Linked DNA regions of Homo sapiens: regions 1, 2, 4 and 5 are each linked to region 3. Evidence: fine-mapped expression QTL. A gene starts in region 3. Each other region holds a variant in brackets. All regions are shown on one strand. Distances are between the middles of the regions.

The links. PIP is the estimated chance that this variant, and not a neighbour inherited with it, causes the effect. A credible set is the group of variants that fine-mapping cannot tell apart.
Region 1: its variant is the best candidate, but not a certain one, in a credible set for the expression of EPB41L4A in whole blood (TOPMed, PIP 0.77).
Region 2: its variant is the best candidate, but not a certain one, in a credible set for the expression of EPB41L4A in blood mononuclear cells (TOPMed, PIP 0.60).
Region 4: its variant is the best candidate, but not a certain one, in a credible set for the expression of EPB41L4A in whole blood (TOPMed, PIP 0.83).
Region 5: its variant is the best candidate, but not a certain one, in a credible set for the expression of EPB41L4A in whole blood (TOPMed, PIP 0.67).

What each region holds. Positions count from the first base shown.
Region 1 is chr5:112,296,856-112,303,082 of GRCh38, forward strand. The region is part of intron 2 of EPB41L4A (erythrocyte membrane protein band 4.1 like 4A); the gene reads right to left. Among named protein-coding and RNA genes, the nearest start is that of EPB41L4A, 120 kb to the right of the region's middle. The variant AT/A (reference allele first, on the strand shown) is at 3,370.
Region 2 is chr5:112,539,850-112,546,076 of GRCh38, forward strand. No RefSeq gene overlaps it. Among named protein-coding and RNA genes, the nearest start is that of LINC02200, 85 kb to the right of the region's middle. The variant C/G (reference allele first, on the strand shown) is at 3,113.
Region 3 is chr5:112,415,721-112,421,947 of GRCh38, forward strand. It overlaps EPB41L4A (erythrocyte membrane protein band 4.1 like 4A), which reads right to left and starts at 3,557. Exons shown (of 23, transcript NM_022140.5): 1 at 3,221-3,557. The coding sequence starts at 3,319. It overlaps EPB41L4A-DT (EPB41L4A divergent transcript), which reads left to right and starts at 3,863. Exons shown (of 1, transcript NR_027706.1): 1 at 3,863-5,258. RefSeq lists a silencer at 4,222-4,311.
Region 4 is chr5:112,532,981-112,539,207 of GRCh38, forward strand. No RefSeq gene overlaps it. Among named protein-coding and RNA genes, the nearest start is that of LINC02200, 92 kb to the right of the region's middle. The variant C/T (reference allele first, on the strand shown) is at 3,481.
Region 5 is chr5:112,357,883-112,364,109 of GRCh38, forward strand. All of the region lies in intron 1 of EPB41L4A (erythrocyte membrane protein band 4.1 like 4A), which reads right to left. Among named protein-coding and RNA genes, the nearest start is that of EPB41L4A, 58 kb to the right of the region's middle. The variant A/T (reference allele first, on the strand shown) is at 3,008.

The DNA of each region.
Region 1 (6,227 bases), 120 kb before region 3:
ATATTTGTTTTTCCATTCCTGAGTTACTTCACTTAGAATAATAGTCTCCAATATCATCAAGGTTGCTGTGAATGCCATTAATTCATTCCATTTTATGGCTGAGTAGTATTCCATCACATACATATATACATACATACACACACACACACACACACACACACACACCACAGTTTATCCACTCGTTGACTGATGGGCATTTGGGTTGGTTCCACATTTTTGCAATTGTGAACTGTGCTGCTATAAACATGGGTGTGCAAGTATCTTTTTCGTATGACTTCTTTTCCTCTGGGTGGATACCCAGTAGTGGGATTGCTGGATCAAATGGGAGTTATACTTTGAGTTCCTTAAGGAATCTCCACACTGTTTTCCATAGTGGCTGTACTAGTTTACATTCCCACCAGCAGTGCAGAAGTGTTCCCTTTTCATCATATCCATGCCAAAATCTATTATTTTTTTATTTTTTTGATAATGGCCATTCTTGCAGGGGTAAGGTGGTATTGCATTGTGGTTTTGATGTGCATTTCCCTGATCATTAGTGATGTTGAGAGTTTTTTCATGTATTTGTTACCATTTGTATATCTTCTTTCGAGAATTGTCCACTCATGTCCTTAGTCTACTTTTTGATGGGATTGCTTCTTTCTTATTTGTTTGAGTTCCTTGTAGATTCTGGATATTAGTCCCTTGTCAGATATATAGATTGTGAAGATCTTCTCCCACTCTGTGGGCTGTCTGTTTACTCTGCTGACTGTTCCTTTTGCTATGCAAAAGCTCTTTAGTTTAATTAAGTCTCACCTATTTATCTTCATTTTTGTTGCATTTGCTTTTGGGTTCTTGGTCATGAAATCTTTGCCTAAGCCAATGTCTAGAAGGGTTTTTCCAATGTTATCTTCTAGAATTTTTATAGTTTTAAGTCTTAATGATTTAGGACTTAAATCTAAGTCCTTGATCCATCTTGAGTTGATTTTTGCATAAGGCAAGAGATAAGGATCCAGTTTCATTTTCCATCATGTGACTTGCCAATTATCCCAGCACCATTTCCCCACTTTGTTTTTGTTTGCTTTGTCGATGGTCAGTTGGCTATAAGTATTTGGGTTAATTTCTGGGCTCTCTATTCTATTCCATTGGTCTATGTCCCTATTTTTATACCAATACCATGCTGTTTTGGTGACTATGGCCTTATAGTATAGTTTGAAATCAGGTAATATGATGCCTCCAGCTATGTTCTTTTTGCTTAGTCTCACTTTGGCTACGCAGGCTCTTTTTTGGTTCCATATGAACTGTAGGATTGTTTTTTCTAGTTCTGTGAAGAATGATGGTGGTATTTTGATGGAAATTGTAATGAATTTATAGATTGCTTCTGGCAGTATGGTCATTTTCACATTATTGATTCTACCCATCCACGAACATGAAATGTGTTTCCATTTGCTTTCAACTTTTCCCCGTTCATATTATGTTGGCTGTGGGTTTGTCATAGATGGCTTTTATTACATTGAGGTATGTCCCTCGTATGCCAATTTTGCTGAGGGTTTTAATCATAAAGGGATGCAGAATTTTGTCAAATGCTCTTTCTGCATCTACTGAGATGATCATGTGATTTTTGTTTTTAATTCTGTTTATGTGATGTTTCACATGTATTGACTTGTGTATGTTAAACCATCCCTGCATTCCTGGTATGAAACACACTTGATTATGGCGGATTATCTTTTGTATATGCTGTTGGATTTGGTTAGCGAGTATTTTGTTAAATATTTTTGCATCTATGTTCATCAGGGGTATTGGTCTGTAGTTTTCTTTGTTATACTGACTTCACAGAATGATTTAGGGAGGATTTCCTCTTTATCTTGAAGAATAATGTCAATATGATTGGTATTAATTCTTCTTTGAATGTCTGGCAGAATTCAACTTGAATCCATCTGGTCCTGGACTTTTTCTTGTTGGTAATTTTTTTATTACCATTTCAATCTCACTGCTTGTTAATGGTCTGTTCAGGGTTTCTAATTCTTTCTGATTTAAGCTAGGAGGGTTGTCTCTTTCCAGGAATTTATCCATATCCTCCATGTTTTCTAGTTTATGCACGTAAATGTGTTCATAGTAGCCTTGAATGATCTTTTGTATTTCTGTGGTGTCAGTTGTAATATCCCCCATTTCATTTCTAATTGAGCTTATTTGGATCTTCCCTCTTCTTTTCTTGGTTAATCTTGCTAATGGTCTATCAATTTTATTTATCTTTTCAAAGAACCAGCTGTTTGTTTCATTTATCTTTTGCATTTCTTTTTGTTTCAATTTCATTTAGTTCTGCTCTGACCTTGGTTATTTCCTTCATTCTGTTGGGTTTGGTTTGGTTTGTTCTTGTTTCTCTAGTACCTTGAGGTGTGACCATAGATTGTCTAGTTGTGCTCTTTCAGACTTTTTGATACAGGCATTTAAGGCTATGAACTTTCCTCTTAGCACTGCCTTTGCTGTATCCTAGAGGTTTTGATAGTTGTGTCACTATTATCATTCAGTTTGAAGAATTTTTTCCACTATGGTCTGAGAGAGTACTTGATATAATTTCAGTTTTCTTAAATTTATTCAGACTTGTTTTGTGGCCTATCATATGGTCTATTTTGGAGAAAGTTCCATGCACTGATGAATAAAATGTATATTCTGAAGTTGTTGGGTAGAATGTTCTGTAAATGGCCAGGCGTGGTGGCTCCCGCCTGTAATCCCAGCACCAAGGCAGGTAGATCACCTGAGTTCAGGAGTTTGAGACCAGCCTGGCCAACATGGTGAAACCCCATCTCTATTAAGGAATATTATGTAAATATCTGTTAAGTCCATTTGTTCTGGAGTATAGCTTAAATCCATTGTTTCTTTGCTGACTTCCTATCTTGATGACCTGTCTAGTGCTGTCAGTGCAGTATTGAAGTCCCCCACTATTACTGTGTTGCTCTCTATCTCATTACTTAAGTCTAGTAGTAATTGTTTTACAAATTTGGGAACTCCCGTGTTAAGTGCATATATATTTGGGACTGTGATATTTTCCTGTTGCACAAGGGCTTTTATCATTATATAATGTCCTACTTTGTCTTTTTTAACTACTCTTAAAGTTTGTTTTGACTGACATATGCCTGCTTGTTTTTGGTGTCTATTTGCATGGAATATCTTTTTCCATCCCTTTATCTCAAGTTTATGTGAGTCCTTATATGTTAGGTGAGTCTCTTGAAGGCAGCAGATACCTGGTTGGTGAATTCTTATCCATTCTGCAATTCTGTATCTTTTAAGTGGAGCATTTAGGCTATTTACATTCAACATTAGTATTTAGATATGAGGTACTATTCCATTCATTGTGCTATTTGTTGCCTGTATACCTTGTTTTTTCTTAATTAT[AT/A]TTTTGTTTTATAGGTCCTGTGAGACTTATGCTTTAAGGAAGTTCTGTTACTGATGTGTTTTCAGGATTTGTTTCAAGATTTGGAGCTCCTTTTAGCAGTTCTTATAGTGCTGTCTTAGGACTGGCAAATTCTCTCAGCATTTGTTTACCTGAAAAAGACTATCTTTTCTTCATTTATGAAGCTTAGTTTTGCTGGAGACAAAATTCTTGGCTGATAATTGTTTTGTTTAAGGAGGCTGCAGATAGGGACCCAATCCCTTCTACCTTGTAGGGTTTCTGCTGAGAAATCTGCTGTTAATCTGATAGGTTTTCCTTTATAGATTACCTAATGCTTTTGCCTCACAGCTACTAAGATTCTTTCCCTCATCTTAACTTTAGCTAACCTGATGACAATGTGCCTAGGTAATGATCTTTTTGCAATTTGCCAGGTGTTCTTTGAGCTCCTTCTATTTGGATGTTTAGGTCTTTAGCAAGGCTGGGGAAGCTGTACTAGATTATTCCCCCAAATATGTTTTCCAAACTTTTAGATTCCTCTTCCTCCTCAGGAATGCCAATTATTCTTAGATTTGGTCACTTAATGTAATCTCACATTTCTTGGAGGTTTTGTTCATTTTTTTAATGCTTTTTTCTTAGTCTTTGTTGGACTGGGTTAATTTGATAACCTTATCTTCGAGATCTGAAGTTCTTTATTCTGCTTGTTCGAGTCTTACTGCTGAGAATTTCAAGAACATTTTGCATTTCTCTAAGTGTGTCCTTTATTTTCTGAAGTTGTGATTGTTTTTTATTTATGCTATCTATTTCACTGAAGATTCCTCCCCTCGTTCCTTGTATCATTTTTTTTGATTTCCTTAAATTGGACTTCACCTTTCTCTGGTGCCTCCTTAATTGGTTTAATAATCAATCTTCTAAATGCTTTTTCAGGTCAATCAGGGACTTTTTCTCGGTTTAGATCCACTGCTGATGAGAGAGTATGATTTTTTGGGTGGTGTTGAAGAACATTCTTTTATCATATTACCAGAATTGTTTTTCTGGTTCCTTCTCCTTTGAGTAAACTATGTTAGATGGAAGATCTGGAACTTAAGGCTGCTGTTCAGATTCTTTTGTCCCATGGGGTGTTCCCGTGATGTAGCACTCTCCCCCTTTTCCTAGGAATGTGGCTTCCTGAGAGCTGAGATGCAGTGACTGTTATTTCCTTCTGGATCTAGCCACCCAGCAGGGCTACCAGACTCCAGGCTGGTACTAGGGGTTGTCTGCACAGAGTCCTGTGATGTGAACCATCTTCATGTCTCTCAGCCATGGATACCAGCACAGTATTTGCAGTGTCTCTGGGTTCCTGCAGGAGCAATCTGCTTCCTTCAAAGGGTCTGTGGATTCTCTCAGCTTTCTTGGTATATTTCTGCAGTAGTTCTGGAGCAAAATTTCACAATGCAAGTCTCTACACACTGCACGATCCGTCCGAGTGGGAACTGCAATCTAGTCCTGCCCCCTGTCTGTCAATTTCCATAGAAAATATGTTTAATAATTATTAAAATGCATAGTATTTTGCTGTTTTAATTAATTGTATAGTGACAACCATGGTAATAACAACTACTTTTAGGGCTCAACAACAATTAGAGCCTTAACATCTTAGGAAATAAACTTTTAAAATTCCAATTTATATGTATATTATGGATATATGTTTTTTATTAATAAAAATATAATAACATTTTAGGGAGAAAGTAGAATAGGAATACAAGTTTAACGACATAAAAGGAATAAATAAATGTTTCTGATTTTTAAAAAAGAGCTTGTTCATAAATTTTTATAAAGGTAGATGAAGAGTACAAAATTGCTATGAAATATAAATTCATAGGATACATTTAAAAGGAATATGACAATTTGATTTTACAATGTCAGTATTTATGATAAACCAAAGATCTGGATCTACTAAAACTTACAAAATTTCAATTCTCAACCTAAAATTACACACGAGTACATGGTTTTTTAAAAAAATTCATAGACCAGGTATGGTGGCTCACACCTATAATCCTAGCACTTTGGGAGGCTGAGGCAGGAGGATCACTAGAGCTCAGGAGTTTGAAACCAGCCTAAGCAACATAGTGTGACCTCATCTCTAAAAGAAAAAAAAATCTTGAAAATCACTGATCTCAGAAACATTTTTTAAAAAGAGCAGATTTGGAGGGGAAGATGGCTTCAGTTTTGAATATGTTACCTTTGAGATACATGAGAGGCATCCGAGTAGTGAACAACAGCTAAAACATTATGTGGACCACACATGTTAAAGCACTAGTCTGTGTATTTTTTATAGATTCCTTCAATCATCACTACCACCCTATGAAGCTGGTACTATTACTATCTTCACTTTATAAACAGAGGAACTGAAGTATAGAAAAGTTAGGGAGACTCACTCAATGCCACACAGCTCTCCAGGTAGACTGTGGTTTGAACCCATACAGTCTGAATCCAGATTTTGAATTTTAACACAGTGTAGTCCCTCCTGAAACATCTGGGTTGAAGATAGGAATCTGAGGCTCAGTCTTTCAATATAATTTAAACCATGGAACAGTTACCAAGGAAAAGTAACACACATTCGTCAGCAGGAAACTTAGACCTTCGGTGCTATGGGGCCCCCTATAGATGCTTCCGGCTTCCAGGCCGTGGACTCTTGAAAAGCCACCTGCCATCATTGTTTCCCAGATACCCTTCATGTGTTGTTGTCAGCCCTCCCAGGATACTGTGCTTCTCATGATGCTCTTCATAAAGTCAAAGGGTTACCTAAGAGGAACTTTCTGCTTCTTGATCTTTCCCCTCTGTTCCTCCAACAGTTGCTTGAAGACATCTCACATAGTAAGTTTCA
Region 2 (6,227 bases), 120 kb after region 3:
GCAGAAGAGGGGGCCTGACTGTTAGAAGGAAACCTAACAAACAGAAAAAAATAACATCAACATCAACAGAAAGGACATCCACATAAATACCCTACGCAAAGGTCATCATCATCAAAGATCAAAGGTAGATAAATCCATGAAGATGGGGAAAAACAAGTGCAAAAATGCTGAAAATTCCAAAAACCAGAATGCCTCTTCTCCTACAAAGGATCACAACCCCTCACCAGCAAGGGAACAAAATGGATGGAGAATGAGTTTGACGAACTGACAGAAGGAGCCTTCAGAAAGTAGGTGATAACAAATTCCTCTGAGCTAAAGAAGCACGTTCTAACCCAGTGCAAGGAAGCTAAGAACATTCATAAAATGTCACAGGAACTGCTAACCACAGTAACCCGGTATGAGAAGAACATAAATAACCTGATGGAGCTGAGAAACACAGCAAAAGAACTTCATGAAGCATACATAAGTATCAATAGCCGAATTGATCAAGGCGAAGAAAGGGTATCAGAGATTGAAGATCAACTTAATGAAATAAAGTGTGAAGACAAGATTAGAGAAAAAGAATGAAAATGAATGAACAAAGCCTCCAAGAAATATGGGATGATGTGAAAAGACCAAATCTATGTTTGATTGGTGTACCTGAAAGTGATGGGGAGAATGGAATCAAGTTGGAAAACACACTTCAGGATATTATCCAGGAGAACTTCCCCAACCTATCAAGACAGGCCAACATTCAAATTCAGGAAATACAGAGAATATCACTAAGATACTCCTCGAGAAGAGCAAGCCCAAGACACATAATTGTCAGATTCACCAAGGTTGAAATAAAGGAAAAAATGTTAAGGGCTGCCAGAGAGAAAAGTCAGGTTACCTACAAAGGGAAGTGTATCAGACAAACAGCAGATCTCTCTGCAGAAACCCTGTAAGCCAGAAGAGAGTGAGGGCCAATATTCAACATTCTTAAGGAAAAGAATTTTCAACCCAGAATTTCATATACAGCCAAACTAAGCTTCAAAAGTGAAGGAGAAATAAAATCCTTTAGGGACAAACAAATGCTGAGGGATTTTGTCATCACCAGGCCTGCCTTATAAGAGCTCCTGAAGGAAGCACTAAATATGGAAAGGAAAAACCAGTACCAGTCACTGCAAAAACATAGCAAAATGTAAAGACCATCGACACTATGAGGAAACTGCATCAACTAATGTACAAAATAACCAGCTAGCATCATAATGACAGGATCAAATTCACACATAACAATATTAATTTTAAATGTAAATGTCCAAATGCCCTAATTAAAAAACACAGACTGGCAAATTGGATAAAGAGTCAAGACCCATTGGTGCGCTGTATTCAGGAGACCCATCTCATGTGCAAAAACACACATAGGTTCAACATAAAGGGATGGAGGAATATTTACAAAGCAAATGGAAAGCAAAAATAAGCAGGGGTTTCAATCCTAGTCTCTGATAAAACAAACTTTAAAGCAACAATGATCAAAAGAGACAAAGAAGGCCATTACATAATGGTAAAGGGATCAATTCAACGAGAAGAGCTAAATATTCTAAATATATATGCACCCAATATAGAAGAACCCAGATTCATAAAGCAAGTCCTTAGAGACCTACAAAGAGACTTAGAGACTCCCACACAATAATAGTGGAAGACTTTAATACCCCACTGTCAATATTAGACAGATCAATGAGACAGAAAATTAACAAGGATATTCAGGACTTGAACTCAGCTCTGGACGAAGTGGGCTTAATAGACATCTACAGAACTCTCCATCACAAATCAACAGAATATACATTCTTCTCACCACCACATAGCACTTATTCTAAAATGGACCACATAATTGGAAGTAAAACACTCCTCAGCAAATGCAAAACAACAGAAATCATAAGAAACAGTCTCTCAGACCACAGTGGAATCAAATTAAAACTCACGATTAAGAAACTCACTCAAAACTGCACAACCTCATGGAACCTGAACAACAACGTGCTCCTGAATGACTACTGGGTAAATAACGAAATTAAGGCAGAAATAATTAAGTTCTTTGAAACCAATGAGAACAAAGACACATCATACCAGAATCTCTGGGACACAGCTAAAGCAGTGTTTAGAGGGAAATTTATAGAACTAAATGCCCACAAGAGAAAGCAGGAAAGGTCTAAAATTGACACCCTAACATCACAATTAAAGGAACTAGAAAGCAGAGCAAACAAATTCAAAAGGTAACAGAAGACAAGAAATAACTAAGATCAGAGCAGAACTCAAGGAGATAGAGACACAAAAACCCCTTCAAAAAAAATCAATGAATCCAGGAGCTGGTTTTTTGAAAAGATTAACAAAATAGCTAGACCACTGGCCAGACTAATAAAGAAGAAAAGAGAGAAGAGTCAAATAGATACAACAAAAAAATGATAAAGGGTATATCACCACTGATCCCACAGAAATAAAAACTACCATCAGAGAATTCTATAAACACTTCTATGCAAATAAACTAGAAAATCTAGAAGAAATGAATAAATTCCTGGACAAATACACCCTCCTGACACTAAAGCAGGAAGAAGTCAAATCCCTGCATAGACCAATAACAAGTTACGAAATTGAGGCAGTAATTAATAACCTACCAACCAGAAAAAGACCAGGACCAGATGGATTCACAGCCAAATTCTACCAGAGGTACAAAGAGGAACTGGTACCATTCCTTCTGAAACTATTCCAAACAATAGAAAAACAGGGACTCCTCCCTAACTCGTTTTATAAGGCCCACTTCATCCTGATAACAAAACCTGGCAGAGACACAACACAAAAAGAAAATTTCAGGCCAATATCCCTGATGAACACTGATGTGAAAAAACTCAATAAAATACTGGCAAACCAAATCCAGCAGCACATCAAAAAGCTTATCCACCGTGACCAAGTTGGCTTCATCCCTGGGATGCAAGGCTGGTTCAACATATGCAAATCAATAAATGTAATCCATTACATAAACGGAATCAATGACAAAAACCACATGATTATCTCAATAGATGCAGAAAAGTCCTTCAACAAAATTCAATACCTCTTCGTGCTAAAAACACTCAATTAACTAGGTATTGATGGAACATAT[C/G]TCAAATAATAAGAGCTATTTATGAGAAACCCATAGCCAATATCATACTGAATGGGAAAAAGCTGGAAACATTCCATTTGAAAACTGGAATAAGAAAAGGATGCCCTCTCTCACCACTCCTGTTCAACATAGTATTGGAAGTTCTGGCCAGGGCAATCAGGCAAGAGAAAGAAATAAAGCGTATTCAATAGGAAGAGAGGAAGTCAAATTGTCTCTGTTTGCAGATGGCATGATTGTATATTTAGAAAACCCCATCGTCTCAGCCCAAAATCTCCTTAAGCTGATAAGCAACTTCAGCAAAGTCTCAGGATATACAATCAATGTGCAAAAATCACAAGCATTCTTATACACCAATAACAGACAAACAGAAAGCCAAATCATGAGTGAACTCCCATTCACAATTGCTACAAAGAGAATAAAACACCTAGGAATACAACTTACAAGGGATGTAAAGGACTTCTTAAACTACAAACCCCTGTTCAAGGAAATAAGAGAGGACACAAACAAATGGAAAAACATTCCATGGTCATGGATAGGAAGAATCAATATCGTGTAAATGGCCATACTGCCCAAAGTAATTTATAGATTCAGTGCTATTTCCATCAAGCTACCATTGACTTTCTTCACAGAATTAGAAAAAACTGCTTTAAATTTCATGTGGAACCAAAAAAAAGCCAGTATAGCATGACAATCCTAAGCAAAAAGACCAAAGCTAAAGGCATCGCAGTACCAGACTTCAAACTATACTACAAGGCTACAGTAACCAAAACAACATGATACTGGTACCAAAACAGATATATAGACCAATGGAACAGATCAGAGGCCTCAGAAATAACATTGCACCTCTACAACCATCTGATCTTTGACAAACCTGACACAAACAAGCAATGGGGAAAGGATTCCCTATTTAATAAACGGTATTGGGAAAACTGGCTAGCCATATGCAGAAAACTGAATGTGGACCCCTTCCTTAAACCATATATAAAAATTAACTCAAGATAGATTAAAGACTTAAACATAAGACCTAAAACCATAAAAATCCTAGAAGAAAACCTAGGCAATACCATTCAGGACATAGGCATGGGCAAAGACTTCATGAATAAAACATCAAAAGCAATGGCAGCAAAAGCCAAAATTGACAAATGGGATTTAATTAAAGTAAAGAGCTTCTGCACAGCAAAAGAAAGTATCATCAGGGTGGACAGGCAACCTACAAAATGGGATAAAATCTTGGCAATCTATCCATCTCACAAAGGGCTAATATCCAGAATCTACAAGGAACTTAAACAAATTTTTGAGAAGAAAACAACCCCATCAAAAAGTGGGCAAAGGATATGAACAGACACTTCTCAAAATAAGGCATTTATGCGGCCACAGACATATGAAAAAAAGCTCATCATTACTGGTGGATGACACTGGAAAATCAAAACCACAATGAGATACCATCTCACACCAGTTAGAATGGTGATCATTAAAAAGTCAGGAAACAATAGATGCTAGAGAAGATGTGGAGAAACAGCTTTTACATTGCTGTTGGAGTGTAAATTAATTCAACCATTGTGGAAGACAGTGTGGTGATTCCTCAAGGATCTAGAACCAGAAATACTATTTGAGCCAGCAATCCCATTATTGGTTATATACCCAAAGGATTCTAAGTCATTCTACCCTAAAGACACATGCACACATATATTTATTGTAGCATTATTTACAATAGCGAAGAGTTGGAATCTACCCAAATGCCCACCAATGATAGACTGGATAAAGAAAATGTGGCACATATACGCCATGGAATACTATGCAGCCATAAAAAAGAATGAGTTCATACCCTTTGCAGGGACATGGATGAAGCTAGAAACCATCCTTCCCAGCAAACTAACACAGGAACAGAAAACTAAACACTGCATGTTCTCACTCATAAGTGGGAGTTGAACAATGAGAACACATGGACACAGGGAGGGGAACATCACAAAACGGGGCCTGCTGGGGGGTAGGGGGTAAGGGGAGGAGTAGCATTAGGAGAAATACCTAATGTAGATGACAGGTTGAGGGGTGCAGCAAACCACCATGGCACATGTATACCTATGTAACAAACCTGCACATTCTGCACATGTATCCCAGAACTTAAAGTATAATAAAAAAAAATCAAACTCACAAACAAAAAAGAAAGAAATATAATCTCCAGTGTTGGAGGTAGAGCCTAGTGGGAGATGACTGGATCATATGGATAGACTTTGTGTGAATGGTTTAGCACCATTTTCCTTGGTGCAGTGATGCAATCACAGCTCACTACAGGCTTAACATCTTGGGCTCAAGCATTCCTCTGTCCTCAGCCTCCCAAGTGGCTGGGACTACGGGTGCATGCTGCCATGTACAGCTAATTATTTTTTATTTGGAAAGACAAGGTCTTGCTATGTTGCCCAGGCTGGTCTTGAACTCCTGGTCTCAAGCGATCCTCTTGCACTGGCTTGACAACCACCTTTGAATTCTTCATTCATGCGCAGGGGCTCAAAATCCATTCCCCTCTCAAGCCTCTTGGCCAGCCTCTGGTCCTCCAGAGAGCAGTCTCTCAGACACTGTCCTCACTACCAATGTAAACTCATAAGCACAATTTAGTCAGGTTACTTCTTGTGCCTGTGTGTCTGCTTTCCCTGGAACCATGCACTGTACATGAGCAAGTAGCTCAAGACATGAAATGGATGAGCTTTACTTTTCTCATTCTCATCTCCGCTTCCCGATGTGGAAGCATTTCCAAGTGTCTGAACTCCTAAGACTAGTGTTGGGCCAGATCCCAACACACGCATAAAACTAAAAGGATACCCTTCATCCAACAGCTTTTTTTTTCTTTTCCTTCTTCACCTGTCTCTAGCTGCATCTTCTTATTTGTGTTTTAAGTTAGACAGTGTTGAGAGCAGGAAGTCACCATTTAGTATTCAAAGAGGCGTTCTGATCTGGCCATGACAAGGTAGAGAATAAAATAAAACCCATTGTAAAACCCTTCAAAGTAATCTGAGTAAGCTGTGCGGATTTCATAGTGACCAGCCACAAGCTTCTGGCTGCGAGCACCTAGCTTGAATTTCTCTGCTACCAATAAATATGGGAGAAATCTTTTGCCAAT
Region 3 (6,227 bases):
ATCCTTACTTGAATAAACAACAGATAGCAGCAAAAGACAAACAGCTAAAAGCTATTGTAGGGCTCAACACACAACCAATAGCTCTCAGCTTATGTAAACTTGAGTTTTTAAATCTCGGATAAGGTTCAAACTGTGAACTGCATGAATAAGACTTTCTGCTATCAAGGTGAGGTTGCCCCTAAAGCAAGTAAAAAAGGCAAATACCTCCGTAACATTAACAGGGATGCAAAGATACTGTGTTTTATTTTTCTGGTATTTTTTTTTTAACAGAAAATTATTTTCCATTTAAATGGAAATTAAATGGAAATAAAATTATTTTCCATTTAACTGATATTCATCTTACCATATAAGATGAGTAACTGTTGTCTTCAGGCTGAAACACTTTTCATGATGACACATTAATTTTTTTTCTAACATCGATGAAAAACTTTATCTAAGTTGAAGAAAAATCACTTCAAAACTAACTTTTCTATTTGTAATTTGGTGCTTAAATAAATCCAAAGAATGTTTTTCAAAATGATACACAGAAAAAATGTTTACCAAGATTCTCTCATATTTCTTCCACCTTAACTTGCTATAATTAATCTTTTCTAATTCACAGTGCATTACTGTAACAATAATACAAGCAAATTCTCAAGTAACCATTTAGGAATCAGTAAAATTATTTCTACTAAGAGATGAAATGTGTGCATAATTTTAATGTAAAATTAGCCATCTTCATCTAAGATAGAATAGGAAAAAGGATAATCACAAAATAAATGTTAGGAAATGCTTTTGAAAAATAGAGATTTTTCTAGTTAATTTCAGAGAACAGTAGGCTAATTGATGTTGCCTGCTTAATTTTGACTTTAATTAGTGGTAATCAAAATTACTAAGTATACTATCTCAAGGAAAAACACCATAATGGTAGCTACTGGCTATTAACTTTGAAGTAACTGTTTACTTTTTCATTTACAAACTAAAGTAGGAGTTAATTTTAAGTAATTAATGCAACACACATCAATTGTACCTATGCACCATAATACAGGAAGGTTAGGAAAAAGTTTTTTAAAATGTCAAGTATGTACAGAACATAAACATGTTCATCCAATGTTTGAATACCTCTACATGCAAGTTTTTTTATACACACCATTTATAAATATGCAAATATATTTAATTTAGTACACGCCAAGGGTGGGTAGGTGTTTAACACATACACTTTTAAGGTAGCATAGAAGATAATGTGATTAGCTTTAGCAGACAACATCTGTGTTACACACATGGCCATCAAAATAATTGTGGCATGCTTTTGTGACAAGGACAGAGGCCAAGCCTGTTGTTAAATGATTATTTCCAACAACAGCCTGCTTAAATTATTGTTTAGTTATATGGCCCATATCCAAAGTAACAGTATTACATAGTTGCTGTTGCCTTTGAATCACTCACCAATTTTCAGCCCATTTGTAAAACAAGATAAGCACCACTGGATTATAAAAAATAATTATGGATCAGGATTTTTGATTCATGTTTCTTTGACAAAATTATTCCATTTGATCCCAAGTCCTGGCTGCTCTCTTGACAGAATAATGTACACGCTCTACAGCTGATAGGCATGACTTTGATGATTAAATAGGAAGCTCACATTCCAGATGACTTTAGACTCCAGATAATTTAGACTTTGCACTTCAAAAAGATTTCTTTACTGTCTTAGTATCTGATCATCAGTTACCTTTTTCTAATTGTTTCTATCTCGACACAAGAATCTATATATTATCTACAATTTAGGATGTTTTTGTGATTTTTGCCTATTTTATTCATACAGTACACCAAAGAATGTTACATCATCTTGTAAGTTACAATATTTTCCTGATTTCATTGGGCGGGTGAGAGGAGAAATATTTTGGAACATAAAGAAAAGTTAAAAATACAAAATGTACACCCTCCCCGAAAAGAGTCTATTTTATTGGTCTTGAAAGGAAATACCGAATGAGAATCGAACTGAATTTTGCTCAGTATAATTACTGGGGAAACAATATTCAAAACAACCTCCTAAAGGAAAGGGTTAACAATCTTGTAGCTTTAACTGATTATTTTTGCTCCTTTCTCCCGCAAAAGAATTACACCTATGAAACTGGAATTCTGTACACTAAGAATGGCAACATTAACGCTGAAACTTTTAGCCAGGAATAGTTATCCTAGTGTGCATAAAACTATGTAAAAACTGATTCACAAAAGGAAATGCCCAGGGCCTACCCCATTATGATTAACTTCTGAGATGAAGCGACTAAGAGAGGATACTTGGCAGCCTGAACTCGATTTCTCAGAAAGCCAGCTCTATCAGAGCGGGGGCGGGGGGGCGGTTTCCCTTCACCAGACTCAGCTGTTGCCTTATCTAAAATGCCTTAGCGATCTAAAACTGAAAGAGAAAGATAAACAAAACAACAAAACGCTCCGGATTTAGATCTCCTTTAGGTAGTTAACACTGTTGCAAAAGCAAAACAAGCACGCAGGCGCGTCGGTCAGGTTGTCACTACAAACATACGTACCTTCTCATCCAATGTAAGGAAGAGGATCTCTGCGAGCTCTGCTGCCTTTTTGTTTGGGCTCTCTAGGTTAATGTAGTGATTGCATTTTAATGACCCACAAACAGGAGCAAAGTTATTACTGGGTCGCTTTGAGAGATGTTTACTTAAATGTGAGGATAAACCCAGGTCGCTGTAGAAAGGGAAAATATTTTCCGTCCAAACGTAGCATTACCCAACTACGAACCCACGCAAAACAATCACAATGACCCATTAATGCGTTTCAACGAGTGAACTAGTTCACTTCCCTAATAACACTGTCAAGGAAAACGCCTTCAACAAAGTCGAGGGAAACCATGCCTTCCACACTGGTGGGACGCAGCTGGTATAACCCATTCTGCCCCTCTTTGAGAGCTGCGGGGCACCCAGAGGCTTTTGGAGAAAACCGGTTTGGGGAAGAGTTTTGGGGTGCTGCTGGGAGCCGGTGTGCTGAGTAAACTTAGAAACGTCAAACTCAACTTTGCTTTATGAAGGAACTCAAAGTTAACTCACCCTGGTACGTCCACCCTCTCCCTGCGCGCAGGGGACAGCGGCCTCTCCTCCCCACCGCGCAGAGTCGCGGCCGCCGCCCTCGACCCACCGGTGACAGCCCTCAAAGCGATGGACCCCCGCACCCGCCCTGCCGCCAACCCCCGGAACGCGCTCCGGGCCGCACCCACCTTGATGCCCTGCTGCTGGGTGGTAAGGGTTAACTTGGATTCATCCAGGAGCAAAACTTCGCAGTAAAATTCTTCCGGAACAGCGCAGAAACAGCCCATGTCGGTTGTGGTCGTCTCCAGCCAGGAGAGAAAGCTACCACCGAGGCGCCCAGCCGCCCCCTCCACTCAAGCGCGATGCATTAATTTATTGTCCGCGCCGTGGCGAGGGTGAGACGAGCAGCTCCCGGCGGGGTCCGGGGACCGGCCGCCGAACCGCCCGGCGGGGCGGGAGCGAGAAAGGCGGAAAAGCCCGGGAGAGTCAGCGCCCGGGAGCCGCCGGGGAAGCGCCGGCGGAACTGGGCGCGGAGGGCGGTGGCGCGTCCCCGCGCATCCTGCGGCTCGAGCTCCTCCGAAGGCGGGGGCGCGGGGCCCCTCCCGCAGTCCTGGGGACGACAAAAGTCTCCTGGCACTGGGGGCAAGAGACCAGAAAAAGGAGTGATGGGAATTCGAGGCTCTCCCCGGCCTTGGAAAACCCTGGAAGCGCTGCACCTCCCTCCTGCCGCACGGATTTGAGCGCGGCCCCGACGTCCTGGCGTCCGATCGGCCTGCGGAGTCCCCCGCGGGCGCGCACTTCCAGCCGCGACCCCGCCCCGCAGCCCCGGGTCAGATCCGCCGAGTATGAAGCGCTCGGCTTTTCTTTTGTGTGAGGAGCACCCACGACGCCCCGACCATGGGCGCAGGGGCAGAGGCGAAGGTCGTCGCTCCGTCCGCTACCCCGTCCCCCAGCCGCAAGCGCCGAGGAGCCGGAAGAGAGGCGGAAAGGGCAGCAGGCTCCTTACCCAGACCAGCGAGGGGAGGTCAGCTCGTCGCGGGGTGTGGCTCCCGTCCGGGGACTCCCGAGCTCATTACGGGTGGCCGTGTGTAGCCAAGTTCAAGCTCTCCCTCCGGGAATGCCTGCCGCGGCGGCGGAATACGGCTTCTTCAGGACATTCAGCAAAGCGGGGAGGCGGGGACCTGCGGGCGGAGGAGCGACGCCCCAGCTGGGAACGCGGCGGACGGGCGAGCGGGGGGTGCGCCCTGGGCGCGCCAGGCCGCAGAGGCTCCGGGGAAAGTTCTCTTGGCCGCGCGAGTGGTGGCGCCCCGGGCGGGAGCAGCCCAGGTGCATGTGGGCCCGGTCCAGGCGTCTGCAAAAAGCCCTGGAACGAAGCGGACCCCCCAGTCCAGCGCTGGCCGCGGCAGGGGAGCCCCTTCTGGGCGGGGTATCAGCTGGGGGCGGAGGGCGGGGCAGAGACCGTGGTCCCAGCGGCGAGGTGCCGGCGAGTCCACGCTGCCAAGCCGCACACTGCGCCCAAGCCGCGGGGCAGTCCAGCGCTCGCTGCGTCCTTCCCCCGAGAGACCTGGAGGCTGGGTGGGGAGAAGAGGACGCGGTGCTGCTCGGACCCCACGGTTCGGCGGTCCCAATCCCACGCCCTCCGCGCGGTCGGCCGCGTCCAGGACTGAGGGGCACAATAGCTCTGAAGCTGCAGTGACCCCTGGTGGGTCCCGATGTCCGTGCACAGGCAGCCGAGGTTGAGCTGCGGACGACACTGAGCCCCGCTGGGCTTCGGAGCAGGTGCAATCTGTGCTCTCCAGCTGGGAACCAGCAGCGAGTTAATGCGAGTCGCAGTTAGGGGAGACACGAGGGGAGGTGTCACAGAAAAAAAACTCTATATTGAGTTTTAGAGTTAGAGCTTTGGCATCAGACGTAGTTTTGAGTTGACTATTCTACTGCTTGTTAGCTGGGTAGCCAAAGCTCAAAAAAAATTGCTTAAAACCTAGGACGTTAGCCCTTAAAACAAAACCAGGCTTCCGTAGCACAGTAGAAATGAAATGAACAATTGGCGACTTTTGATGGAGTTTCCTCTCATAGTGATTTGCCACAAAGGACCTTCTGTAGGAAGCCTCGGCCTTCCCTGCTATTGTGACCCCATCCAAACACAGGATCAGCATAACCGCCAAAGTGCAATATAAATTTCTGAACTTTACCTAGGCTATGAATAAAACTATTTTATCTTCTGAATTTTCTGTGAAATTGACTCAGGTTTTGAATTTCTGATCAAATTTCGTGTCCAGCTTTGTTTTATTGTCAAAGTCTTGCCTGCCTTATGAGGTGACACCTTATTATGCTAGATTTTAGCATTTCTGCTTGTAGAGGCTTTTCTTTTCTGTAATACAGTATTCCTGACAGGAGTTACCAAATGTGATTGAAAGATGGCTTAACATTTTCATTCTTTACCTCCATATCCAACCGAGACACTTGAGGCTGCAAAAACAAAAGGTTCAAGCAATCATCTGTTCCCAGTTTTTTTGAGTTTTGCTCTCACCTGTTTTTTGGCCCTTTGATTTGGTTTTTTTGCTTTCTGATTTTTGGTTTTGCTGTTGTTTGTTTTTGTTTTTTTACCTCCAGTGGCAGTGAGAAGGCTGAGGGTTTTGGATGGGCAGGGATTCTGTTCCCAGCTCCTCATAAGGTAAGTTACAAAGCCATAAGGTCCCATACATATGACACTCTTTCCTGAGTGAAGCATTTTCTTTTCCATTTCTTTATCGGAGACTGGAGAAAAGAACATTTAAAATCTATTTAACACAAAATTAGAGATTACTAGTGACAAGAGGATTCCACAGAGTTTCTAAGGATAGCTTTATTGCATATAATTTACATACAGTTCACTGCATAATTTTTAAGTGTACAATTTGATAAGTTTTGACATAAGTGTGCACCCATGAACCCACCACCATAATCAAGCTAGTACACATATTCATCCCTCCCTAAGGTTTCCTCCTGCACTTTGTCATCTTTCTTTTTTTTTTTTTTTTTTTTGAGACAGAGTCGCGCTCTATCAGAGTGCAGTGGCGCGATCTCGGCTCACTACAACCTCCACCTGCCGGGTTGGAGCAATTCTCCTGCCTCAGCCTCCCAAGTAGCTGGGACTACAGGAGTGCGCCACCATGCCCTGTATTTTTAGTAGAGACAAGGTTCCACCATGCTGGC
Region 4 (6,227 bases), 120 kb after region 3:
TCTAAATCCAAATCCAACATTCTAAAACAAGATGTTATCCAAAAATGAAAATTAGTTGCATGACCATTTTTAAAATAACTTTACATATTGAAATAGCTTAAGATTCAGAAGAAGTGACAAAAATAGTACAGAGGTTTTCACACACCCTTCACCCACATTCACCCAACATTAATATCTTGCATAACCATGATGCATGTCAAAACCAGAGTTGCACAGCTCTTAAATCCGTCATCCACGTTGAGCATATAAAAGCATCTGGCTACTGGAAATGAAAATAAGGGATTTTTGAAGAGTGATATGTCTTCTGAAAGCTCTGCATGTGCTGTGGGTTCCTCTACCACCTCATTCGCAAAAGAATAGGATGTGAATTGCTTGTTTTTTCATCTCAACTTAGAAGAAGAAGCATCAAAGGGAATTCTCAGAGAGCTTAATGTGTATTTCCTGAAGTCTGGGGGTGGGGACACACTGCACTTGAGTGTGACTCCCCTCTGAGCACTCAAGGGTGAGAGACAGGCTGGACAGCAGCTGACTGGTAAGCCAAGGGAAAGATGGCTGGGTTGACATAGGCCTGCATACACAGAATTTGTCAGAGCAAGAGATGCATGGATTTTACATAACAGAAATGTGAACCACACACAAGAAAGCTGGCATGAGGTCATCTTATATCCTGTCCAATAGGGCTACCTAGGAGGGCAAAGTCCTCAGTAGAGAGAAGCTGATGGCATAGTCTGACTCATAGGGATTGGAGAGGGAATAAGCAACACACCGAATGAGAGGGCACCATTCACATGAACAGAGTTGCAGAGAGATCCTTGAAGATGGTGTGGAAGTGGAGAGAGGACAAGGAGTGAAATCTCCAAAGAATACATGATGGCATCTATGAAATCATTACCTTTAAACTCACGCCAGTGCCAGAGAATATTTGAAAATTGTTGTGGGTTTTTTTTAAAAAAAAAAAAAAAAAACAATCTCAAACTTACAGAAGCATGCATGTACAATACTAAAAACTTTTTCCAGAATTATTTGAAAGCAAGTTGCCAATATCATGCCTCACTGTGTGGAGTGACATCTTCCTCACCCTGTCCATGCTCTGATACCCTCCACAAGACCACCCTCCTCCTTGGGTTCCAACTCTGCACCAGGCTGCCACCCCATGTGTGACAAGGCATGAACTTTCTTCACCTTGCACAGGCTCTGGCTTCCTTAGGCAGCCCATACTCCCATGCAAATACCCACCTCAACTCATTTGACTCCAGTGTCTGGCCCTGGACAGCCTTCTTGGTGCAGATGCCCTCCTCAGCCTGCTTGGGGTCTGACATGCCACACCAATGCACCCCTCTGAGGCAAGGCCCTCCTCACCCAACTTGGGCTCTGACACCCCATTCTGGGCACCATAGCCAACTGTAATAGTTAATATTGAATGGACTGAAGGAGGCAAAGTGTTGTTTCTGGGTGTGTCTGTGAGGGTGCTGCCAAAGGAGATTAACATTTGAGTCAGTGGACTGGGAGAGGCAGACCCACCCTCAATCTGGGTGGGCATCAGCTAATCAGCTCAGGACCGAATTGTTCAGAATGGGAAAAGACAAGAACTTGGGAAAAGAGCTGCAAAGCCACCTTGTAGTAGCAGCAGTCAAGTAAAACCTCTCATGGTTATTTTAATTCTTCTCTTTCTTTGCTTTCAGATCTGGAAGGTTAAGAAAGCACAATTATCAGGCTGGGGGAGGAAGGGCATAGGAAGGGAAAAGGAACCAACTACACCCCTCCTCCAGTTGAAGGCTTCCTGGTAGGGGAGGGAAGATTTATATTTGAATCAGGTTCAGAGTTTTGCCTTATATGGGATGAGAAATTTTGACTTCCGAATTGAGACTGTGCTTGGTGACTAAGAGTGGCAATCGTTTTATTAGTTAAGTGTGTTAAGGAAAGCCATAGGACTGCTGATGTTTTTTATCCAAGAGCCAAGGGAAAACTTTCCCCATTGAATAAATATAAAAGGAAAGTGAGGGACAAATTATACCACCTTATCATTCCGCTCCATGAGGCCTGCTTGCTCCGTGCCTTCATTACATACATTTGCAGTGGCTGCCAATCTAGAACAAACAGGGGTTTTCTATAATTTCCAAGAGGCCCCAACTGTCTGAAAATCTACAGAGGAAACAAAAGTCCTTATGGTAACCCTTTTTTGGTTGTTCATTTCTTTAAAGATTGACAGGGTTTTGTTTGTTTTGTTTTTTGTTTTGTTTTGTTTTGTTTATCATTCTGTAATTAGGGAGAGTGTTCCAACAACAAAAATATATTATTTCTAGGTAACTGAGGTATAACTAAGAAGACCTCAAGGGCAAAATTCTGCTTTCTCTTTAAATCTCTCGCAAGCACATCTCTAATTTTATTTCTGCCTTTGTTGCTGTCTCATCTTAACTTCATCTTAGTAAAATTGTCATCAAAATCTTCTTGGGAGAGAAGAAGACTCACAGTCCGTGCCCATGGTGGTTTTTATCTGCCTGAACACAAGCCAAACATCTTGGGGCCAGTATCCTCAGAGGTCTTCCTTTATCACTGAGCTCTCCCTTGTACTCACCTCAGCCTCACTGCTGGGTGGGTCTATCTCCTGCCATCTATGCACCACCCAGGTCCTCCACTCTGCTGAAACTTCTTTTGAGCTATTAGGTTTGGATCATTCCTGGGACTTTTGTAATCTCTCACATTTTAGACGTGGTCCACTGAAAATAGAGTAAGTTTAATTCCAAATCCAACACCTTCATCTCTTTTGAGGGAGGCAAAAATTGATCACCTCTTTCCTACGGTAATGTTGTTGATCTTGTTTTTAGTTTATCTCTGTAATTCCCACTTTGTCTAGCACAGTGCTTTGAACATAATCAGAACTCAGTAAATATCTACTGAATGGATGAATTCATTCCATGAAGAAAGAACATGAAAGGATGATTAATGGAGGCAATTAGCCAGATAATTAAAAAGTATTTTTCCTCTACTATTCAGACATTTCAACAAGAGGATTTTTTGTTAACTACACAGATAATTACTTTAATATACCACATCACTCTTTATACATGTGTGGGACCCAATATTTGTATACACGTATGGCCTGACAAAAAATAGGTAACAGTTGTTGGATAAAGAATTATATTTGCAGAAATAGAATGGAAAAGATACTGTTAACAGTATTATTTCTGGGAAAAGAGGAAAGGGAATTGTTGGATCAACAAGGTCACTGGTCTTGTAGTTTTTACTGTATACACTTCTATATTTATACAGTGTTTTAATTTTTGTGAGCACGTATTTTCAATATTAATTTCTTAAAATTGTATTAACTAAGCAGAAAACTAAGCAGAGATATTGCGGACCTGAACTTTTGAGCTTTTAGCTTCATGGGTTCGTATTACGGGATACAATGCCCATGGGGTAGCAAATGCCTCCAGGGAACAGGCAAGTAAAATACATAAGCAAAGTGGACTGCAATATGGA[C/T]TGCAGCAAGTGGGGGCAAGGCAAGCCCTGTGCACAGTGGCCAGGTGCTGCCAAGTCCAGCCAATTACTGTTACACAGAAACATGGGACCAATGTTGTCAGATCACCCAGTTTTCAAAAGAAGTTCAAAATCTAGAATATTTTTAGAGAAGTTTCCTGATTTTTAAATGAAAGCAATTGATTGAAAAGGTTTGAGGTTTAAGATGCAGGCAAAACAAAATGTCTGTGGCCTAAATTCAACCTGTTTGCACACTCTGACTTAGGTAATAGCCTAGGGTAGATTGTTCGTTTGTTTGTTTTTAAACAGATGTAGAGGTTTCATGAAATTTTCTCATCCTTTGGCTATTTTTCTCTTATGCAGATTGTCAGTTAATATTCCAGAGTCTACAAAGGGCTGCAGGGATTTCCATGATGACTGAGCAGCAGGGCCCAGAAACCATCAATCCTCTGTAGGTTTATAAACTGATTCCCAGTTGGCACAGCATTCTGGGGTGGTCATAAAGAATAAGGTGTAGGGAGTAGTAGCATGCTTCCTGAGGGCTTCGAGGGCCAATAACTGAAATTAGGTTTATAGAAAATAATCACAATAATGGCAGGGAGTGGCCTTCAAATCCTAGAGCTATGGCCAATTGGAGTATGAAACTCTAAAGGAGCCATGAAGGCCACAAGGTCAGTAATGTGACATTTCAGTAGAAACAGATGTCAAGACAAATAAAAAGCATTTCTTCTCACATTAAAAACATTGAGATGGCAGATATATATGTAAGGAGATAAAGTCCATCCCAAATTCAGGCTTCATAATGAACATTGAGCCTTAAGGAAAGAATAATCCAGAACAGCCCAATGGAGTCTTATGTTCCATTTAAATCATCTGTAACACTATTCAGTAAAGACCATGAAGACACTGCACAGAAGCAGGTGAATGAATTCTGTCAAGCCACTTGCTGAATTACAGTATCATGCCAAGTACTTTCTCCTTACATATAATAATATCTACCATGCCACTTACCAGTGCTCACTACTGAAAATTTAGCTGAAAGCCAAGAAATAAACATTAACACACAAAAGCCCTCAAGGCATCTAAAACCAATCTCACAAGGCCAGGCAATAAGGATCACAAGGCTGATGAATGGGGCACCTTTTCATACAGCACATATTAACAATACTTAACACACAAAGCTAAAATAATGGGCTCTCTGGTTCTTCCATTAAAGTAATTTGGAAGCGGCAAGTAAGGACAATACCTGGCACATAGTAGGCACTCCACAAATTTATTGAGAAACAAATTAGAAACAAAACAGCTAGAATTATCAGCCAACTACCTGACAGGGAGAGAGGACATGTCCTGAAAAGTGGACACAGGCCTAAAGTAATCTATTATTCTGAAGCTATTAGGGGTACAAATAAAGCTCCTGAGAGCAGCACTCTGCACTGCACAACACAAAGCTCCTCTTACACCCTGGTTAAGAGGCTCAGCTTTGTAGCCAGGATCCAATTGCTACCTTACAGCTGGGTGAACTTGGTTAAGTACCTTAATCTCACTTAACATTGGTTTCCTCATCTGTAAACTCTGCCTCATAGGGTTGTGAGAATTCAATTAGTTAATACATGCAAAAATCATAGAATAGTGCAGGTACATAAAAAACATTCAATAAAGACTAGCTATGGACAAAAATACCATCATCATGAAAAAGACGACCTTATGTTCAGGATGATCTAATTAATAAGGCAGGAAAGTAAATAACAAAGGTATGGAAGATCTTCATCCAAAATTATTAAAACAAAATGTTTTGGTTTTGTAGAGAGCTGTTTTTAATTATCTGGAAAATTCATGTGAAATACTCCATTGAAAAGCAAATCTGCAGAGCTGAGGACAGTGTTCTGTGAAACACTGGAATTAGAGTGCCTAGACACGAGTTTCAGCTCTGCCAGTTGCCAGCTGTGTAGCACTGGGCAAGACACTTAAGCATGCTTCAGTTTTCTCATCCATAAAATTAAGATCATAGAAAAGTTGTTATCAGAACTATATTATGACTTCCATGGGCCCTGGGTACATTTGCCTTTATGAGTTGCTTCCTCCCTAAAATAATATTAAAAGTTGTTTGTACCACTGACTGAACTGCTGTAAAGACAAATATAATCTAGGCTGGTGATATGGTTTGATTGTCTCCCCAAAATCTGATGTTGAAATGTAATCTCAAAGATGGCTGAATAGGAGCAGCTCCGGTCTGCAGCTCCCAGTGAGACCAACATAGAAGGTGAGTGATTTCTGCAATTCCAACTGAGGTACCAAGCTCATCTCACTGGGACTGGTTAGACAGTGGGTGCAGCCCACAGAGGGTGAACAGAAGCAGGGTGGGGCATTGCCTCACCCAGAAAGTGCAAGGGGTTGGGGAACTGCCTCCCCTAGCCAAGGGAAGCTTTGAGGGACTGTGCCATGAGGGACAGCGCTGTCTGGCCCAGACACTAGGCTTTTCCCATGGTTTTCACAACCTGCAGGCCAGGAGATTCCCTCGGGTGCCTACACCACCAGGACACTGGGTTTCAAGTACAAAACTGGGTGGCCGTTTGGGCAGACACTGTGCTATCAGCAGGAGTTTTTTCTTTTTCATACCCCAGTGGTGCCTGGAATGCCAGCAAGGCAAAACTGTTCACTCCTCTGGAAAGGGGGCTGAAGCCAGGGAGCCAAGTGGTCTAGCTCAGTGGATCCCACCCCCATGAAGCCCAGCAGGCTACCATCACTGGCTT
Region 5 (6,227 bases), 58 kb before region 3:
AAGGCATCCACTACAGATGGGCTTGTCAATAACCAGGTGAACAAAATTACAAGGCTGTGGAGAAGTTATCCTTTTTCATCAGTCACACCGGTCTTCCTCAATAGTCCAAGAACAAGTGACCATGGTGGAAAGAGTGGAGGCTACATACGGACTCAGCAAAGGACTTCTTCTCATGAACGCTGACCTGGCCTTTGCCAACAATGAGTGCCTGATCTCCCAACAGCAGAAGCCAATCCTCAGTCCAAGATGGCAACATTCCCCTGGAAGATCAGACAGCCACTTGGCAGCAGATTGATTATATTGGATCCTTTCCATCAAGGGAGAGGTAATGATTTGTCCTTACTGTATATGTCCAGCTGTGAACTTACACACATATATTACACATACACACATGAATTTATTTTTTACTCTCTTACTCCATGTTTTTCAGGGATTGGTTATGGTGGTTAACTTTATAATTTAGTTTCTATGTTACAGATTAGTCCTATAGAACTCTGGATAAACTGGAAAAGATAATTTCACAAAGACTGTAACTGTCAACCAGAAAAGAATTTCTTAATCTAAGATCCTGATACGTACCCATGGTTGATTATTAGGAAATCTAGAATCCCCTTGCAATCACAGAAAAAGGATCACCCATCAGGACAGCAAAAGTTTAACAGCTGGATGATACTGAGTAATGGCAAGGATGCAGAGCAACTAGAATTCTCACAGATTGTTAGCTGGAGTAGAAACTGGTATATCCACTTTAAAAAATAGCTGTCAGTACCTTCTAAAGCTAAACATACACCTACCCTATGATATAGCAATTCCACTTCTAGGTATACACACAAAAGAAATGAGTGCATATATCCAGCAAAAGATATATACAAGAATGTTCAGGGCAGCTTTATTTGTGATAGCTAAATACTGTCCACTGACAGTAGAATGGATAAATTATAGTATATTCACAAAATGAATTACCAAACAAAAGTTAAAGAAAAAAAGAACTTCTGCCACAGACAATAACATAAAAGAATCACAAACTTCAATGCTAGGTGAAAGAAAACAGACACAAAAATATATATATTGTATTATTCCTTTTATACAATGTCAAAATAGGCAAAATTAGCCTAAAGGGCTAAAATTCAGAAGAGTAATTTACCTCTGGGTAGGTACTGTTTGAAAAGGGACCCAAGGGAACTTCCTGGAGTACTGAAAATATCCTACCTCTTGATCTGGATGGTGTTTACACAACTATATCTATATGTAAAAACTCATTCAGCTATGTATTTAAGATTTGTATACTTTATATTCTACTTCAATAAAACTGTTCCTGAAAGATATTATGTATATGTACACATGTCTTAGAAGAGAATCCAGGGGTGTGTTTTCTTTCCCAATTTCTCTAATAGGTCTGTGATCCAACAAAGGTAAAGAACACAAATAAGAAATTCACTAAATTTTCAGTTGAGTGCTTGCTTTCCAACTGAGAGAAACTGCCTAGCCAGAGGCACCCAATTATCCAATATATAGCTGATTTCAAAAGCTTTTTCTTCCTAATGCTCCCCCTAAGGTTAATATGGTTGGAATAACAACTGTTGATTGAGTTTAGAATATGAAAAAACTCACTTCCTGCTTCAGATTCAAGGATACATAGAAGAAATATCCTTGAAAGTCTTCTTTTTTTTTTTTTTGAGACGGAGTCTTGCTCTGTCGCCCAGGCTAGAGTGCAGTGGCGCGATCTCAGCTCACTGCCAGCTCCGCCTCCCGGGTTCACACCATTCTCCTGCCTCAGCCTCCCGAGTAGCTGGGACTACAGGCGCCTGCCACCACGCCCAGCTAATTTTTTGTATTTTTAGTAGAGACGGGGTTTCACCGTGTTAGCCAGGATGGTCTCCATCTCCTGACCTCGTGATCCACCCGCCTTGGCCTCCCAAAGTGCTGGGATTACAGGCGTGAGCCACTGTGCCCAGCCAAAAGTCTTGATGAGTTTATTTTAAAGGTAAGTTATCTATTACTTTATTCTGAATAATTATGATACAGCATTTTCACTTTCCATCTCAACATACATGTTGCAAAACAAAATTTTCATCAGAACTCTATAATTACTGACGTGTATGTGCTTTTTTCATTTTAAAAAATATTTTATCCAGGCTAACAGATTCAACGGAAATCCAATAATTTGTAAAAGTAACTATCAGGCCAAGCATGGTGGCTCATGCCTGTAACCCCAGCTACAGATTCAATAGGAATCCAACAATTTGTAAAAGTAATTATCAGGCCAGGCACCATAGCTCACGCCTGTCCCAGCACTTTGGGAGGCCGAGGCAGGAGGATCACTTGAGTCCAGGAGTTTGAGACCAGCCTGGGCAACACAGCAAGACCCTGTCTCTACAAATAATAAACTGACCCTCGACCCTCTCCCCTCTCCCCTTTGCACGGTCTCCCTCTGATGCTGAGCCCAGGCTGGACTGTACTGCCGCCATCTCGGCTCACCGCAACCTCCCTGCCTGATTCTCCTGCCTCAGCCTGCCCAGTGCCTGGGATTGCAGGCGCGCACCGCCACGCCTGACTGGTTTTTGTATTTTTTGGTGGAGACGGGGTTTCGCCATGTTGGCCGGGCTGGTCTCCAGCTCCTGACCGCGAGTGATCTGCCAGCCTCGGCCTCCCGAGGTGCCGGGATTGCAGACGGAGTCTCGCTCACTCAGTGCTCAATGTTGCCCAGGCTGGAGTGCAGTGGCGTGATCTCGGCTCGCTACAACCTCCACCTCCCAGCCGCCTGCCTTGGCCTCCCAAAGTGCCGAGAATGCAGCCTCTGCCCGGCTGCCACCCCGTCTAAGAAGTGAGGAGCATCTCTGCCCGGCTGCCCAGTCTGGGAAGTGAGGAGCGCCTCTTCCCGGTCGTCATCCCGTCTAGGAAGTGAAGAGCGTCTCTGCCCGGCCGCCCATCTTCTGGGATGTGGGGAGCGCCTCTGCCCCGCCACTCCGTCTGGGATGTGAGGAGCGCCTCTGCCCTGCCTCGACCC[A/T]GTCTGGGAAATGAGGAGTGTCTCTGCCCCGCCGCCACTCCGTCTGGGAGGTGAGGAGCGTCTCTGACCGGCCGCCCCGTCTGAGAAGTGAGGAGCCCCTCCGCCCGGCAGCCGCCCTGTCTGAGAGGTGTACCCAACAGCTCATTGAGAACGGGCCATGATGACGATGGCGGTTTTGTCAAATAGAAAGGGGGGAAGTGTGGGGAAAAGAAAGAGAGATCGGATTGTTACTGTGTCTGTGTGGAAAGAAGTAGACATAGGAGACTCCATTTTGTTCTGTACTAAGAAAAATTCTTCTGCCTTGGGATGCTGTTAATCTATGACCTTTCCCCCAACCCCGTGCTCTCTGAAACATGTGCTGTGTCCACTAAGGGTTAAATGGATTAAGGGCGGTGCAAGATGTGCTTTGTTAAACAGATGCTTGAAGGCAGCATGCTCGTTAAGAGTCATCACCACTCCCTAATCTCAAGTACCCAGGGACACAAACACTGCAGAAGGCGGCAGGGCCCTCTGCCTAGGAAAACCAGAGACCTTTGTTCACATGTTTATCTGCTGACCTTCCCTCCACTATTGTCCTATGACCCTGCCAAATCCCCCTCTCCGAGAAACACCCAAGAATGATCAATAAATACTTAAAAAAAAAAAAAAAGAATAAAAAGAAAAAGGGATATCATTTAAACACAGTATGTAGAAAAGAATAATTATTGAATCTGTACTGGTCTTTAACTTTTACACTTTGATCTTTAATTCTGTTATTGTGATTGAGTCCAAAGAAAAATAGTAGAAGTAAAATAAAAAGAACACCAAAAATGCTAAAAAAAAATAATAATAATAATAATAATAATAAACTGACTGGGTGTGGTGGTGTGCACCTGTGGTCACATTTACTCGGGAGGCTGAGGCAGGAGGATCAACTGAGCCTGGGAGGCAGCAGTTGCAGTGAGCCATGATCATGCCACTGCCTTCAGCCTGGTCAACAGAGCAAGACCCTGTCTCAAATAAATAAAAATTAAAAGTAATTATCAGAGAAAATAAGAGAATCTAATTCTAAAAAGTCTTATGTTAGCCTTTTTCCTTCCTTCTTGATAAACCAAGCCATTGATATAAGCTATTTTAAATTCTTGGTCTTGTTGGCAATACCAACCAAAGGGCTAGTCTACCATTAGACAAAGGATCCCATTTTAAGTATGTAACACAATCATAGCATTAATTTTATTTAGTTTTCAGAGACAGGATCTCATTCTGTCACCCAGGCTGGAGTGCAGTGGTACAAGTACAACCATAGCTCACAGCAGCCTTGAATTCCTGGCCTCAAGCAATCCTTCCACCTTAAGCCTGGCAACTGGTTGGGACTACAGGCTCATGCCACCATGCCCAGCTTAGAGCATTAATGTTTTTTTTTTTTTTTTGAGATGGAGTCTCACCCTGTCACCCAGGCTGCAGTGCAGTGGCACCATCTCGGCTCACTGCAACCTCCAACTCCCACATTCGAGCGATTCTCCTGCCTCAGCCTCCCGAGTAGCTGGGATTACAGGTATGCGCTGCTGCGCCAAGATAATTTTTGTATTTTTAGTAGACACGGGATTTCACCATGTTGCCCAGGCTGGTCTCAAACTCCTGACCTTAGGTGATCCGCCCACCTCAGCCTCCCAAAGTGCTGGGATTACAGGCACGAGCCACCGCACCCAGACTTAGAACATTAATTTTAAAAGTCAACCAAAACATTAGCCTCACTTTATCATTAATAGCAATTCCATAAAAGTTAATGTCAACAGCACACAAAATTAAACCTTGAGGAACAACAGATAAAAGTCTTCTGTGCCAAACTGAAGTTCTCTAAAGTAATCATTAACAATACTTTACTGTTCTCTTAAATACACTGACATCCTAAAGACAAATCATTTTTTAAATAAATGCAATATAAATAATATCAAGTCTGACGATTCATCTCAAACCTGATCTGATGGCTTATGATGTTTCCTAAAAGTAGCAGGTAGCTTTATATGTATTTTTATTTGATTATTATTATTTTTTTTTAAAGGCAAGATTTCAGAAACCTTTATTTTGGAAAATATTTTTGGTCAAGAAACCCTGCCCTTGAAATCTATTACTTCAGGAAGCCAATTCCTACCTGAGTCCTGACTTCTTACAATGCAATTGGCCATATCATTTCCATTAGCCACTTTCAAGGCTTGAAAATGTCCTGTACACAAGTTTCAGCTGGTCTAGTCAGAGCCCAGTGTGAGTGGGACATTCAGGGGCTAAACCCTGCAGCACCTCCTGGCCTAATCAAAGGAGGTTCTGCAGCTGGGTAATAAGAGTGGTAACTTTATTATAGAAGAATTTTATTCCTTTATGTTCCCCATATAACTTATAAAAGACAAGTTATTTCATATTATATATTTTCAATTCAAACAATCCTGACTGGTGATGTAAGAAACAAAAAAATCATGCCCAACACTTTGAGAGGCTGAGGTAGAAGGATCACTAAGACCAGCCTGAGGCAAATAGTGAGACCCTTGACTCTACAAAAAAAAAAAAAAAAAAATCAGCCAGGCAGGATAGGTATCTTGTTTTCACCTTCCAGTTCTTCCACCTCAGTCTGTGTTATAAGGGAGATCTTTGACGTTTTTCTCAAGATCAATGAGAGTATTCATATCATCAATTTTTCCAATGATCTGGTCAGACATGTTCTGAAACTTATTTCACACATGTTGCAGGAACATCTCCACCATCAATGTGAGATCCTGCACAATCTTGGGGTCAGTCTCAGCCACCTCACCAGTTCCAGCTTCATAGTGATGTCTCAAACCATCACTTACCATTTGATGATTCTGATAGCTTAAATTTTTAAATATTAAGTTTACAGTTTAAGATTATTAACCAGTTACATAACACAGCTGCATGCACATTCAGCGGTTTCTATTAAAACTGTAGGTTAGTGTTTTCCCTACTTCAAATACTCACTTAAACACTGAAACCATTCATGCCATATTTTCATGTAAGTTTATAGAGTGTAGCATTCAAAAAATAGTCAATAATGAAGTTTACTTTCCAAAAAGCAGTAAATTCAGTATCAACTCTAGAAAAGGTAATAATGATCCTGTGCCAATATTTGCTTTCATTCATTTATTCATTCATTCATTCATTTATTTTTAGACGGAGTCTCGCTCTGTTGCCCAGGCTGGAGTGCAGTGGCGCAACCTCAGCTCACTGCAAA